Linked DNA regions of Homo sapiens. The main gene of each other region encodes a partner of the protein of the gene in region 2 in a complex. Each region holds a gene or a part of one and is shown on either strand. Other genes may lie near its edges.

Region 1 (7,690 bases), on a different chromosome or scaffold from region 2:
TGTTTGATACATATTAATGTTTAATTAATTAATTATTTATTTAATTAAAAAAATTTAAGAGACGGGGTCTTATTATGTTGCCCAGGCTAGAGTACAGTGTATGGTGGCATGATCATAGCTCACTGCAACCTCGACCCCTTGGGTGCAAGTGATCCTCCTGCCTCAGCTTCCTGAGTAGCTGGGACTACATGTGCATACCACCACACTAGATAATTAAAAAAAAATTTTTTTTAAGAGACAGAATCTTCCTATGTTGCCCAGGTTGGTCTTGAACTCCTGGGCTCAAGCGATCCTCCCACTCTGGACTCCCAAAGTGCTGGTATTACAGGCAGTGAGCCATTGTGCCTGGCATTAGCTCCTTCTTTTCCTCACTTTCCCACCAGTGTTTCCGGAATCACCTTCCAGATAAATTACTTACACTTGAAGCCTTGTCTCAGAGTCCACTTATAGGGGAAATCAAGCTAAGATTTTATCAAGAGTGGGGATGGGGGACAGGTAGGAGGGAACAGCCAACAGCTTATAGATATGTCCCCACCCACGGTCACCAGGTCAGGTGCACACTTGGTGGTGGCTCATTGAGAAAGCCTCTGCAGGTTGGACAGCCAGTCTGAGATCTTGCCTATGTTTTTACAGAGAGTGGACCCTTGGCCACTGTTCAGGGCAAGGAGGGGCCTCCACGTCTGAGTTCGAGCAGCCCCCATAGTGGCCAGAGTGTGAAAACTTTTCCCAAAGCAAACCCAGCTGATCTACTAAACTCCTCCCCGGGCACCCTGGTTGGTATCTTCTCATCTTGGGCTCATGACTTCGTTCGTCCTTTCCTCAGCTTCTTTACCTGCTAACAAATACAGGTAACCTGTTGTTTTAAATTATCTATTGGTATTTTTTATGATTATGAGTCTTTTTTTTGTATAAAGGTCTTTTTTTTTTTTCTCTTTGAGACATGGTCTTGCTCTGTTGCCCAGGCTGGAGTGCAGTGTTGAGGTCATAGCTCACTGTAGCCTCAAACTCCTGGGCTCAAGTGATCCTCTTGCCTTGGCCTCCCACAGCATTGGGATCACAGGCATGAGCCACTGCACCCAGCCTATATAAATATTTTAAGTACAAATGATATAGAAAAGAATATTAAAGTCATCTTGTAGCAGATTGAATACAACCACAAATTCCTCCCATTGGGAGGTGGGATCTGTGTCCCCTTTGCTTGAATGTGGATGAGCTCTGTGACTGCCTGATCAATGGAATGTGGTGCAGATGACTTGGCGCCAGTTTCCAGATCAAGACCTTAGTAGCCTGGAAATTTCTGCTTCCTGTCTGTTGGAACACTTGCTCTTGAAGTCCAGCCACCATGCTGCGAGAAGCCCAAGCCACATGGAGAGGGCACGTGGGGGTGCCCAGGTGACAGCCCCAACTGAGCTCCTAGCCCACGGCCAACTGCCAGCTGTGGGAGTGACCCATTTTGGGAGCCCAGCCCAACTGAGCTTTGGATTACTCTAGCCCTGGTTGTGATCCGACTGCAATCATGTGAGAGACCCCGCTGAGAACTGCTGAGGCCAGGAGATTCACAGATACGCGAGAGATTATAATATGCTGCTGTTTTTAACTATGAAGTTTTGGAGTAGCTCGCTCTGCAGCAATAGATACTGGAACATACCTGTAATCCTCCTATCTTGGAGATAACGACTATTAACATTTGGTTTTCCTGCATATATATATATATATATATATATATATATATATATATATATATATGATTTATTTTTGTATGTATGTACTTATTTATTTAATTTTAATTTTTTATTTTTTGAAACTGAGTCAAGCTCTATTGCCCAGGCTGGAGTGCAATGGTGCAATCTCAGCTCACTGCAACCTCCACCTCCCAGGTTCAAGTGATTCTCCTGCCTCAGCCTCCCAAGTAACTAGGATTACAGGTGCCTGCCACCACGCCTGGCTAATTGTTGTATTTTTAGTAGAGATGGGGTTTCACCATGTTGGCCAGGCTGGTCTTGAACTCCTAATCTCAGGTGATCCTCCCACCTCAGCCTCCCGAAGTGCTGGGATTACAGGCGTGCCTGTATATATTACATGCCCTGCCTATATATATTTTAGAGACAGGGTCTGGCTCTGTTTTCCAGGCTGGAGTGCAGTGGTGCAATCATATCTCACTGCAGCCTCAACCTCCTTGGCTCAAGCGATCCTCCCACCTCAGCCTGTTGAGTAGCTGGGACCACAGGTGTGCATCACTATGCCCAGCTAATTTTTAAACATTTTTTTGTAGAGTCAGGGTCTTGCTGTGTTGCCCAGGCTGGTCTTGAGTTCCTGAGCTCAAATGATCCCTCTGCCTTGGCCTCCCAATGTGCTGAGATTACAAGCAGGAGTCACCACACCTGGCTATATATAAAAATTATAAACAGATAATTTTTAACCAAATGTACATAATTTTAATTGCTTTTTTTTTTTTCAGCCAGCAAGCATTTTTTTCCATCTAGTTATCGGGAAAGTAGAACTAGAGGCAAAAGAAAATGTGTTGAATGGTGAAACCCTGTCTCTACTGAAAATACAAAAAATTAGCCAGGCGTGGTGGCAAGCACCTGTATTCTCAGCTACTCGGGAGGCTGAGGCAGGAGAATCACTTGAACTCGGGAGGCAGAGGTTGCAGTGAGCTGAGATCACGCCACTGCACTCCAGCCTGGGCGACAGAGGGAGACTCCGTTTCACAAAAAAAAAAAAAAAAAAAAAAAGAAAATGTGTTGAGAAAGAGTGAAAAAAATCATTGGCTTGAGAATCACATTGGCGGTCACATAAAGGTGAGGTTTGTGTTCCATGTATGTGTGGAAGGATACCTATTTTCCTGTGCCTTTGAAAACAGAATTAAAAGTGACAGACACAGGGGAGGGTAAGGATATATCACAGAGTGAAGTATCATTGAACCATTCCTCTGTTGAATATTCAGGTTTTTTTAGCTTTTCATATTAACAATAATGCTGCAATGAACAAGCTTGCAAATATATATATATATATATATTTTTTTTTTTTTAGAGATAAGAGTCTTGCTCTGTCGCCTAGGCTGGAGTGCAGTGGCACAATCTCTGCTCACTGCAACCTCCGCCTCCAGGGTTCAAGTGATTCTGCTGCCTCAGCCTCCCAGGTGGGATTACAGGTGCCTGCCACCACGCCTGGCTAATTTTTTTGTCTTTTTAGTAAAGATGAGGTTTCACCATGTTGGGCAGGCTGGTTTCAATTGCTGACCTCAAGTGAGCCACCCCGCCTCAGCCTCCCAAAATGCTAGGATTACAGGCATGAGCCACCGCACCCAGCCAAGTTTGTACATATATTTTTGACTACACTTCTTAACTATTCTTAGGATAAATTACTAGAAGTGAAAATTCTTGGGTGAAGAGCTTGAGGCCTTTACACACACACACACACACACACACAAAAATAGGCTGGATGCAGTGGCTCACACCTGTAATCTCAGCAGTTTGGGAGGCTGAGGAAGGAGGATCACTTGAGTCCAGGAGGTTGAGAATAGCCTGAACAACATAGCAAGATCTTGTCTCTACAAAAAATTTAAAAAAAATTAGCTGGCCATGGCAGCATGTGCCTGTAGTACCAGCTACTCGGAAGGCTGAGGTAGGAGGATCGCTTGAGCCCAGGAGGTTGATTGAAGCTGCAGTGAGCTGTGATTACACCACTGCACTCCAGCCTGGGCAACAGAGCTAGACTCTGTCTCTAAAAAAAGCACAAAATAATATTTAAAAAGCACCAGGTATGCCTGTACTTGAGTTGTCTTTGTTGATGGCTACAAATGAGGACAGCTCTGGCTGAAGGGCGCTTCCATTTCCATGGGCTGAAGGAGGGACATTTTGCAAAGTGTGTTTTCAGGAAGACACAGAGTTTTACCTCCTACACTTGTTTGATCTGTATTAATGTTTGCTTATTTATTTATTTAATTTTTTTTTTGAGACAGAGTCTCACTCTGTCACCTGGGCTGGAGTGCAGTGGCATTATTGAGGCTCATTGCAGTCTCAGACTCCTGAGCTCAAACAATCCTCCTGCCTCAGCCTCTGGAGTAGCTAGGACTACAGGCATGTGCCACCATGCCTGGCTAATTTTTTAAATGTATTTTTTTGTAGAGTCGGGGTCTCCCTATGTTGCCCAGGCTGGAGTGCAGTGGTGTGATCCTAGCTCACTGCAGCCTGGACCTCGGGCTCAAGTAATTCTCACACCTCAGCCTGTCCAGTAGCAGGGGCTACAGGCGCGCACCACCATGCCCAGCTAATTAAAAATATTTTTTTGTAGAGACAGGGTCTCTCTATGTTGCCCAGGCTGGTTTCAAACTCCCAGGCTCAAGCAATCCTCCTGCCTTGGCCTCCCAAAGTGCTGGCATTACAGGCGTGAGCCACTGCGCCTGGCCCGTATTAATGTTTAGAACACGAATTCCAGGAGGCAGGCTAAGTCTGTTCAGCTTGTTCATATGCTTGGGCCAACCCAAGAAACAAGTGGGTGACAAATGGCACCTTTTGGATAGTGGTATTGACTTTGAAAGTTTGGGTCAGGAAGCTGGGGAGGAAGGGTGGGCAGGCTGTGGGCAGTCCTGGGCGGAAGACCAGGCAGGGCTATGTGCTCACTGAGCCTCCGCCCTCTTCCTTTGAATCTCTGATAGACTTCTGCCTCCTACTTCTCCTTTTCTGCCCTTCTTTGCTTTGGTGGCTTCCTTGTGGTTCCTCAGTGGTGCCTGCAACCCCTGGTTCACCTCCTTCCAGGTTCTGGCTCCTTCCAGCCATGGCTCTCAGAGTCCTTCTGTTAACAGGTGCATGGGGGTGGGGTGGGGGACTCTGGGTGGGGAGGAGGGTAACTTTTGGGTCTGTCATAAATAGAGGGCCCAGAATATGTAGGAGTCAGTCTGGGGAGAGGCAAAGGGGATTTGGGGAAGGAGAAAGGGTTCAAGAAGAAGCAGGGAGAACAGCTAGACCCAGACAGGCTGGCCAGGGAAGCCTGGATGAATGACCACATTCATGGACTGTGCAAGGCTGCTTGCCGGTCCCCTTGCTTCACACATGAGGAGACGGAGGCCCAGGGAGGAGAAGTGACATGGCTCAGGGTGCGCAGCAGGTGTGAGACCCCTTTCCTGAGTGCTTCCTCCTGGATCCCCTCTCACCATCTCCACTTTGCCTCCGGTTCTATTTTCCAAGGTCCCGGGTGCAAATGTTTGTTGAATGACTGATGAATGAAAATGATTTGAGTTTGTTACCTTTTATGCTTATATGTTGTGGAAAATGAAATTCTCCTCAAAAGGGAAGGAAATACTTGAGAGCTGCATAGGAAGGAAATTATCTAATTAAGAATGTATAGAAACTTCACTGTTGGGCAAATCATCGTTGTGACACCGGGGGAAGAAGCCATTTAGGTGCTCAGAAGGGAGGCTGGAATTCAGAGCAGGACTGGACGTGCCCCACGACGGTGGTTCTTAGGTCAGGAGTCAGCAAACAGTGGCCTGGGGGCCCGATATGGCCCACGACCTGTTTTTGCACAACCTGCCAGCTAGAGATTGAAGATGAACACTGATAATCGATTTGATGATAGGGAGCACCACCCCCAAAGAATTCTATTTGTCTCATTTGTAAACCCGTATTACAAACAAATTGTACTCAATCATTATGTTTGAAATTTCCCTAATGACAAATTTGTGGAAAAGTATTTTCTGTCTTGTTATATAAGTACTTGTACAACATATTCTATCAGCCTCTTGGTCTGCAAAACCTAAAATTTACTATCTGGCTGTTTACAGAATAAGTGTGCTAATCCCCGCCCCAGGCTAACAGAGCTGGACCTGGGAGGCAGACATCTGGATGCTGGGTTAGTTAGGGTGACCGAATGGATGGGAAAGGGAATGGAGCAGGAAGACATGCTGCTATCTTTTTTTTTTTTTTTTTTTTTTGATACAGGGTCTTTCTCTGTTGCCCAGGCTGTAGTGCAGTGGCATGATCATGGTTCACTGCAGCCTTGACCTCCTGGGTTCAAGCAATCCTCCCACCTCAGCCTCCTGAGTACCACTACACCCGGCTAATTTTTTATTTTTTGTAGAGATGGGGTCTCACTGTGTTGCCTAGGCTGGTCTTAAACTCCTGAGCCCAGGTGATCCTCCCACGTCAGCCTCTTAAATTATTGGGATAACAGGCCTGAGCCACCACACCCAGCCATTGCTTTCTTTTAAATTATTATTAGTTTTTGTTTTTTTTTTGTATTTAATTTTGAGATAGGATCTCTCTCTGTTGCTCAGGCTGGAGTGCAGTGGCACAATCAGGGCTCAAGTGATCCTCCTGCCTCAGCCCTCCAAAGTGCTAGGACTACAGCCCCTAACTGGCATGCTACTTTCCTCTGCTTGATCCTTCCCCCATTCTCCCTTTAGCCTTGACCTTATGTCATGGGTTCAACTTGGACACTGAAAACGCAATGACCTTCCAAGAGAACGCAAGGGGCTTCGGGCAGAGCGTGGTCCAGCTTCAGGGATCCAGGTGAGACCCTTAGATGGAGCCCCCTTTCTCAGTGCTTTCTCTCCAAGACTTACATACCTGAAAAAAATCAGCGATTTGAGTGATCTTTTTCAACAGATAAATCAATTCAAAATATACAACAAATTCATCTTTTGAATTTACAGTATTCTAAATTCAAAAGATGCAAAAGGGTGTAAGAGTAAAAATCTCTTCCTTACTCCCTTCCCCTAGTTCCCTTCCCAGGAGGGACCTCACAAATGGTTTCCTGGGTGTTCCTTCGGGGAGACTCTGTGTGTGCATAACACATACACGTTCCCTCCCTCAGCCAACACACCATGTGTAGTATACATTGTACTGAAATTAAGGCCTGCCTGCAGGCTGCCGCCTATTTTTGTGAATGAATTTTATTGAAAACAACTCCGTCCACTTGTCTCTTACTGTTTATTGCCCTTCCCTCCCTTCCTCCCTTCCTTCCTTCCTTCCTTCTTTCCTTCCTTCCTTCCTCCCTCTCTCATTCCCTGCTTCCCTCTTTCCCTCCTTCCCTCCCTTCCCTCCCTTCCATCCTTCCTTCCTTCCTTCCTTCCTTCCTTCCTTCCTTCCTTCCTTCCTTCCTTCCTTCCTTCCTTCATTTCTTTCTTTCCTTTCTGACATGGTCTTGTTCTGTCATTCAGCCTGGAGTGCACAGGTGAAATCATAGCTCACTGTAGACTCAAACTCCTGGGCTCAAGCAATCCTCCCACCTTAGCCTCCTGAGTAGCTGGGACTACAGGCATGTGCCACCACACCTGGCTAATTTTTTGATTTTTTTTGTATAGACGAGGTCTCACTCTGTTGCCCAATCTGGTCTCAAACTCCTGGCCTCAAGTCATCCTCTTGCTTGGGCCTCCCAACTTGCTGGGATGATAGGTGTAAACCACTGTGCCTGGCTATGGCCACTTTTGAGCTGTAATGGCAGAATTCAGGAGCTGTGATAGAGATTGTATGGACCCTGAAGCCTAAAACATTTACCTTTACAGAAACAGTAATTGTGGAGGTGATAGTACCTTTCCAGAAGAAGGGGGCTGGTCTCTGCTCTTTGCTTTATCTCCCATAATACAGCCCAGTGATTTGAGTCCATTAATCCCATGTTATGCTTGCATTGCATGCCATAATTGGGAGATGCTATAATTTATTTTATTTTATTTTTTTAGAGACTCCCT
Region 2 (7,021 bases):
AAGAAGAGGTGTGGATGAAGCAAAGTATCAGCATGTGGGTAGCACTGAGGGGCAGTATGCATGTACACATGTTTTCCACACATATCGTAGAAGTAAATGCATTGAGTCCATAAAAGAGGAAATGAAACAATTGATGCTACAAAATAGGAAATCAAAGAAGAAACAACAAAATTATTGCATAGGCATTGGACTGAACTACATCTGTGAATAACACATTAAGCAAATGTTTAAAAGATGATACTTTTGATTTTTAACAGAAATATGTTTCTGTATTTTGCCACTTAATTTATGCTACTCATTTAAACTGAAATATTTGGAAATTGAATGAACAGTGCCACGTTAGGCAGCCTAGCCAACCAGTACCTGGATTTTAGTTCCTGAATCACTGAGCTGTATGTTCACAATTCGACAAGCCTTGTTATCAGTTCTGAGGCATAGCTGACGTGGGGCGAGGGATTAGGTAGTTCTAGATGACTAGGCAGTTAATTCTTAAGCACAGGTGAGTTACTTTAAATCGGTTCACAAAGCATTAAAAGGATCTTGGTGATATGCAGGCTTTTGAACATATTTACGTTGCGATGGTACTGTTTGACAGGGATATGATCCTTTTTCTGTGATAAGTCCTTGTGATTTATTGAACAAGTCTCCAAAAGTGAACTTTCAGTGGTCTTGATGGTATGCCTCCAACTGTTCCTTTTCAGCTGTCTCTCTTGACCTCTGCAATGTGCATTTCTGAATGATTTTAGCTTCTTTTAGCTAAAATGAATTCTATCTCTTAGAAGGTGCACATTTTGTATTTCTATTCTAATCAATACTTCCTCCCACTGCTTTAATAACCCAAAGACACTTTATTTAAGTCAGCAGCGAACAGGGCCTGAGTCACTTTAGTTAAAATCTGGGCTCCCCTCAATCTGAAATCATTTCATCTCCTAATTTCCTTTTTAGTTTTTCTGTATACACAGCAGGCCATCTGAAAATAAGTAATCAAAGCAAGACCTTTTACTGAGAAAATGAGATAAGCTTATTTCAGAATTCTCAACTTTCTCACTTCTTGAAAAACATGTCCCCTTAAGGTCTTTGAACAATCTTTAAACAGATGTCTTTCTCTTAAGGCCCACTTCCAATCTGATTTCTCCCAGATTTTCTTAATATTGAAAGTGGGGAGTTGATGTTTACTTATACCAACTACATGGCAATTCTATTTCCAAAAGGCTTGTGAAAAGATAGAAAACAGATGATGCTTGTTGTCTGATTATTTGCCTTTCAAGAGTAACTTTGCTGTGATAGACTCATATAAATTGCTGATAAGAATTTAAATTACTACTTCCTTTCAAAAAATAAATTTCCCGACACATATCTGGAGTTTTTAAAATGTCCTGCCCTTGGATCCAGTACATCCTTTTCTAATAATCTATACTAAGGCAAAATTTAAGCATTCGATGATTTGTGAACAAAATCAGCATTGCATCATTATTTATAATAACAAGAGGTCAGAACTATCCAACTGATGTACAAAAGATGAAAGGTTACAAAATATATGGAGTAGGATAATATAAAGGAATATTACTTGGTCACATTTCAAAGTATATGCAATGACATGGAAAATAGATACAATTGAATTTTTAGCATAAAATACTATATCAACTGTCAATATATTCCTAAGTAAAGTCATAGAAAGAAAACATAAATAGAACTCGTTAAAAGTGTTGTTTCTACATTGTGAAGTTATGAGTAATCTCTCTCTCTCTATGTATGTGTGTGTGTATATATATACATATATATGTATATGTATACGTGTACATATACATATATATGTATACATATATACATATATGTATGTGTGTGTGTGTGTGTGTGTTTCTTTGGTTTTTATATGAGTCTGTAATACTTTTTAAATGAGACAAGTAATTAATATTTTTTAAGAAGAATGAAATAACCCCAAGAGGAGAAACCCTCCTTTTCCTTCAGGGTAAATCTACTGTAGGTATACTCTTTCTTTCTAGTAATTCATTCTCCTTGTGGCTGCTCTATTTTTCACAACACATGTCTCTGGATTGTAGTAGTAAATTAGCAACAAGAAAACCAGGTCTCAAAACCATAAAAATAGCTGCCACATACCCATGATCTTTAATATAAATATGTACTTTAAAGCACTTTACAATTTTGAAAGACTCTCCCATAAAGCCACCTTGAAAGTGTTGTTTGTAATGTCAGCTGTGTGAAGGCAGAGTTTTGTCTTGTTCACCTTTATACCCTAGCGTCTAAAACAGTGGAGATGGAGTGCATATTTGCTGAATCAATAAATTAATGTGTTTTGAACATTAGTGGTAAGATGAGATTGCAGAGGACATAATCTCACATGATACTAACACTGGCCCTCTGAGGAGGATATAGGTTTTATTATCCCCAGTTTATAGGAAACAGAGGCAGAATGATTGATCTGCACAAGATCACAGAGCTGGTAAGTGGCAAACATCTATTTGAACCAATTCTCTAGATTAGGGCTTAGTTCTTAGTATGATTCTAACAAAACTTCATGATTTTTTCATTGTCTCACCGTACCTAAAGGCCATGGTGTCACTTAATACGTTAGCATTTATCAAGATTTTGTTTTCTATTCAGCATAGAAAAAAACACATGGGCTCAGAATTGTAACACGGCTCATATTAATTTCTACTCATTCTTCTCACTGCATTTACTGTATTAGCCCATTCTCGTGCTGCTATGAAGAAATACCCAGAACTGGGTAATCTATAAAGAAAAGAGGTTTAATTCCCTCACAGTTCCACATAGCTGGGGAGACCTCAGGAAACATACAATCATGGCGGAAGGCACCTCTTCACAGGGTGGCAGGAAAGAGAATGAATGCAAGCAGGGGAGATGCCAGACACTTATAAAACCATCAACTCTCATAAGACTCACTCACTATCACAGAATAGCATGGGGGAAACTGCCGCCATGATCCAATTACCTCCATCTGGTCCTGCCCTTGACACATGGGGATTATGGGGATTACAATTCAAGGTGAGATTTGGGTGGGGACACAGAGTCAAACCATATCACTGCCTGTCTTCTTTCTTATCAGGAGTTGTTATGCATTCAAAGAATTTCCTTGGATAAATTCTGAGTTTTCTAGATTGAATATGGTGAACATGGCCCTTTGGATCCTATGATTCATAGCAATGTAAGAAGCCTGAATCCTTTCTAGAGTACTTTTTCTTAGTAAAGCCTTAGGACTTTCTGAACACTTTCAAACGTATCTTAAAACAATGTATTTGTATTTAAAAACCCCCCACAAAGTTACAAAAATACACACCTACTATTTTTTCTCATCTCTGTATCCCAATTATTATGAGTACTAGCCTCTATCAACTCAAAAACTGGCCAAAGAAAGGATGAAAGTTTGAAAACCCAGGAAGTTAAAATCTACCCAGGGCACTGCTGTGAGATTCCAGTGCAGTGATGTCCTGGTAGGAACAGAACAAGTCACCTTTCAGGCAGGTGCCCTTTACTTTCACATGTTGACAATGGCTCATTCTCTGTTTATATCCATTTCTGCTTTGCAGCCTCAATCCAGGCAGGGACAAGGGACATGTGGCCCGGGGTGTTATTTGATGTGTGGTGTATGTGTACTTCCTTCTCTTGATTTGGCTCTGTTCAATGTGAACTAAAGTGCCCTACTGTTCACATCAGGGTAGGAATCCTATTGGCTCTCAGAACCTTCTAGAGTAGCCGCTATATGACTTCAATAAAAAAGCACTTGGCTTTAACTAATTATAGCCCTGCTCCAGGCTAATTTGTGACCCACATCTCATAGTAAACATTTCTCTCTAACCTTGAAAGGCGACTAAACTGGGACAGTTTTACCCACAGAGTTTAATCAGGTCTCTATTCTAAAGACAAAGTTTTAAGAAACCTGGATAAATTTCATATACGTATGTTTGTAAGTTTTCTTCTTCATAAAATATTTGTCTTTAAAGATAGACTGAAATTTGACAAGATTCTAATTGGATTTACACTCCTTACTTTCCTTGAGAAATACTCTTTTCTATATAGTAATGGGTTGAACTATTTCCCATTCAAGTATTCATTTATCCACTCCGCATGCAACAAGTATTTCATGAATGCTTGTTATATCTCAGGCACAGAATATACAGTTGCAACATACAGATAGGGTCTCTATTGTCATAGGAAAGGAAAAACACATACCAAATAATTAGAGACAAAATTAATAGTTCAATTCTAGTTTTGGAAAAATCAATGGGAGGCACAATGAGAGTGTCTGTGCACGGAATCTGCTTATCTGAGAGCTCTTGGAGGGCTTCCCTGAGAAAATGCAGTTGAGGCTAAGATTTTAAGGATGACTAGGTGCTGACTGTGCAAATTGGGGTAGTAGGAGAAGGAACACTCAGGCCAAGAGGAAATAATATGAAAAGGATAAGATGGAAAGAAGCAAAGAAAAGTCAAAGAACCGTCATAAGGAAGATGGGTGAGACATATTATCACCATGTTATGGATCCATTTATTTTCACTAAAGCTTTACTAATCAGCTTTTACACACAAGGCCCTGTGCCATGGGTTGGAGGTACAACAGAGAGTAGAAACTGCACCCTCTCGCAGCTTGTATTTTGGTGGCAGTTACAATGCTAGAGATAGGTGCTCTAACAAGAGCAGGAAAGAGAAACAACTTCTAACTCACACTGCGAGGTCAGCAAACTAGAAGTGATGTCAATGCTGGTACCTGAAGGATGGGAGGCATTAATGAGACATGTCGTAGTGGAAGTGTGGGGTTGATGAAATGAAGAGTGAATTTGAAGGCCAGAGACTAGAGAGAAAAACAGACAAAGAGAAAAGATGTATTTGGGGAACTAAAATAAGCATAAGTATGAAGATGGAAGTAAAGAGGGGCAATGTGAATGTTTCAGTTTCTTCATCTATTACGTAAGGGCGTTGGACCACGTTCTTTCTAGGTCATAGATTTTGTGATACTATTTTAAACCCATCATGTATACTAGGTAAAGATTGAGAGGTTGTTAATAAGTTTTTGAGGCCACAGAGATAAGCAGTGACAAAGCTCATTTAGTCTTTCAGTTGAATGTACATAAAAGTCACAAAAAACTGCTTTCGATTGGAAGCAATATTACTGACCTGATTTTTTTTCACAAAAATTTGAACACTTTGTTATGTAAAAAACTAAACTGACCTTATTGCAAATATGAATTCTTCCCTCCTTCCACTACTTTTTACTGAAGACTCTTTATTTTTCTCTTTAGATTGAGCCCAGAGTAGACTCAAGTTCTGCAGGGTGTCCGGACAGTACCATGATTACTTGCCACTTGTGTCAGAAGAATAAGTTGATTGACATTGTACAGATTTAATAAGCAAATTGTTGATTTCCTGGTATTTAGCAAGTTGTCAATTAAGGAATAAGACACCAATGTCAGGTTCAGGGTTACCTAAGAATGTGCTCTTGCCTTTACCAAGAAGAATTTGGTGACAGATTCCTATTCCCAAAGTGTTCTTTGAAATGGACAACCTTACATTAACAGATCAAATAGTGTCCAATGTTCAGAATAATTTTAAGTTTTATGAAACTTTTATACAAAAACCTGGTTAGTATGTCATCTGCTCAGACTTATGTATGAAATAGGAACATGTTAGCCAAAATATGAAAATTGCTACTTAGATATCCACTCTACTGGAGACCTAGAAGATAACAAGTTCCTGAGGGTTTTCCAGGAAGGGACATGAGGAAACTGAGAGAGGGAAAACCAGAGTTAGGTCTCAGTTGAAATCCTACATTGTTCTCTGAAGATACCATCCTAATATACAGCTGTTGCCTAAAATGTTGACCAAAAATTGGGAATTATTACATTTTCAGACACTGAATAATTTTTCGGAAATTACACATAATGTCTCCTTTGATCTAAAATGTATCTTTCACTTGGAAATTCTGGTCATTACACCTCTCATAGGGTGAAAGAAAGATATTTGAGAAAACAAACAAAAATAGAGAGCGTGAAAAGTTAAATTTCTTTAGTATAGAAATGGGGCAAACTTGGGAAGTCATGAATGGAATGAATACAATTATGGACAACAATTTAGCCTGGGTTTAGAAACTGCTGACCCACTTGCATATAGTGTACCCTTGAAGTTTGAGTAAAGGAAGATTAGGACAATTACATTGAACAGAAATACTACTAGTGTGTAATGGACTTTGGAACCTACTTGAAGAGGTCATGAAGATAGTATATAGAAATGGAAAAGTTTCCAGCTCTACTTAAGTATGAGCTGAGAAATATACAATATTTCTAGTTGGCATCATATCATATCTTCTGTCTTCATAAGTCTTATGGTCCTCTTGGACACAGGCTGTATGCTCCAGTGAACAATGACCTCATCCCTGTTGGTCATTGTTTTTGTCCCAGTGACCCTATGTTGCTTAGCACATTCATTGACCTGCTCAATCAATATGCCTTGATAATGATTAAGGATTTTAATTATACAGGGTAATGATCTCTTGTTCTTGCTCTATTATCACCCTAATGATAAATGCTAACCTTAATTGAGCACATGCTATTGTATCATGTTCTGTTCTCAGTAGATTTTATAGAACAGGTTTAATTTGGATATAAACCGTATGCTTACTATCATATGCTATGGTACTTTTCATATGCCTATTTAAAGATGAGTAATCTAAGAAACAAATACATTAAGTAACTTTCTCAGTGTCTCACAGTAACTTAATGATGTGGCCAGGATTTAAACTTCAGCAGTCTGACTCCAGAGCCTGTACTTAACCAGTATATTTCTGCCACTACTATGGACCAAATTGGAGAAGTGGCTCAGAAATATTTAGCAATATCCCCTCACTTGCTAACCCAGTGATTCTGACCATTTTTGTCTTTGGAGCCAAATTAGATGTGTTCTATTCTACATTGCATTCTCCTGTTAGGAAAAGAGAAGTGGAAAGATGGTTGAATGGAAAAGAATGGAGTCTTTTGATTGAAATCCTCAATGT

Evidence for each region. The genes of interacting proteins can lie anywhere in the genome.
Region 1: the proteins of PTN (region 2) and ITGAM are in contact, whole or in part, in an NMR structure (PDB 8VOH), measured with the Homo sapiens proteins. Residues at the interface, in NP_001308315.1 of Homo sapiens: Val56, Pro57, Thr58, Ser59, Asp61, Cys62, Gly63, Leu64, Thr66, Glu68, Thr79, Lys81, Thr82, Gln83, Arg84; in NP_000623.2 of Homo sapiens: Pro273, Asp276, Arg277, Gly279, Val280, Ile281, Arg282, Tyr283, Lys306, Pro307, Arg309, Asp310, His311, Ala334, Ile335, Glu336, Gly337, Thr338, Gln339.

Annotation. Positions count from the first base shown.
Region 1 is NC_000016.10:31,255,286-31,262,975, forward strand, and holds the start of ITGAM (integrin alpha-M isoform 2 precursor), read left to right. Parts: upstream 1-4,689; 5' UTR 4,690-4,779; coding exon 4,780-4,807; intron 4,808-6,406; coding exon 6,407-6,512; intron 6,513-7,690.
Region 2 is NC_000007.14:137,228,727-137,235,747, reverse strand, and holds part of PTN (pleiotrophin isoform 1 precursor), read left to right. Parts: intron 1-7,021.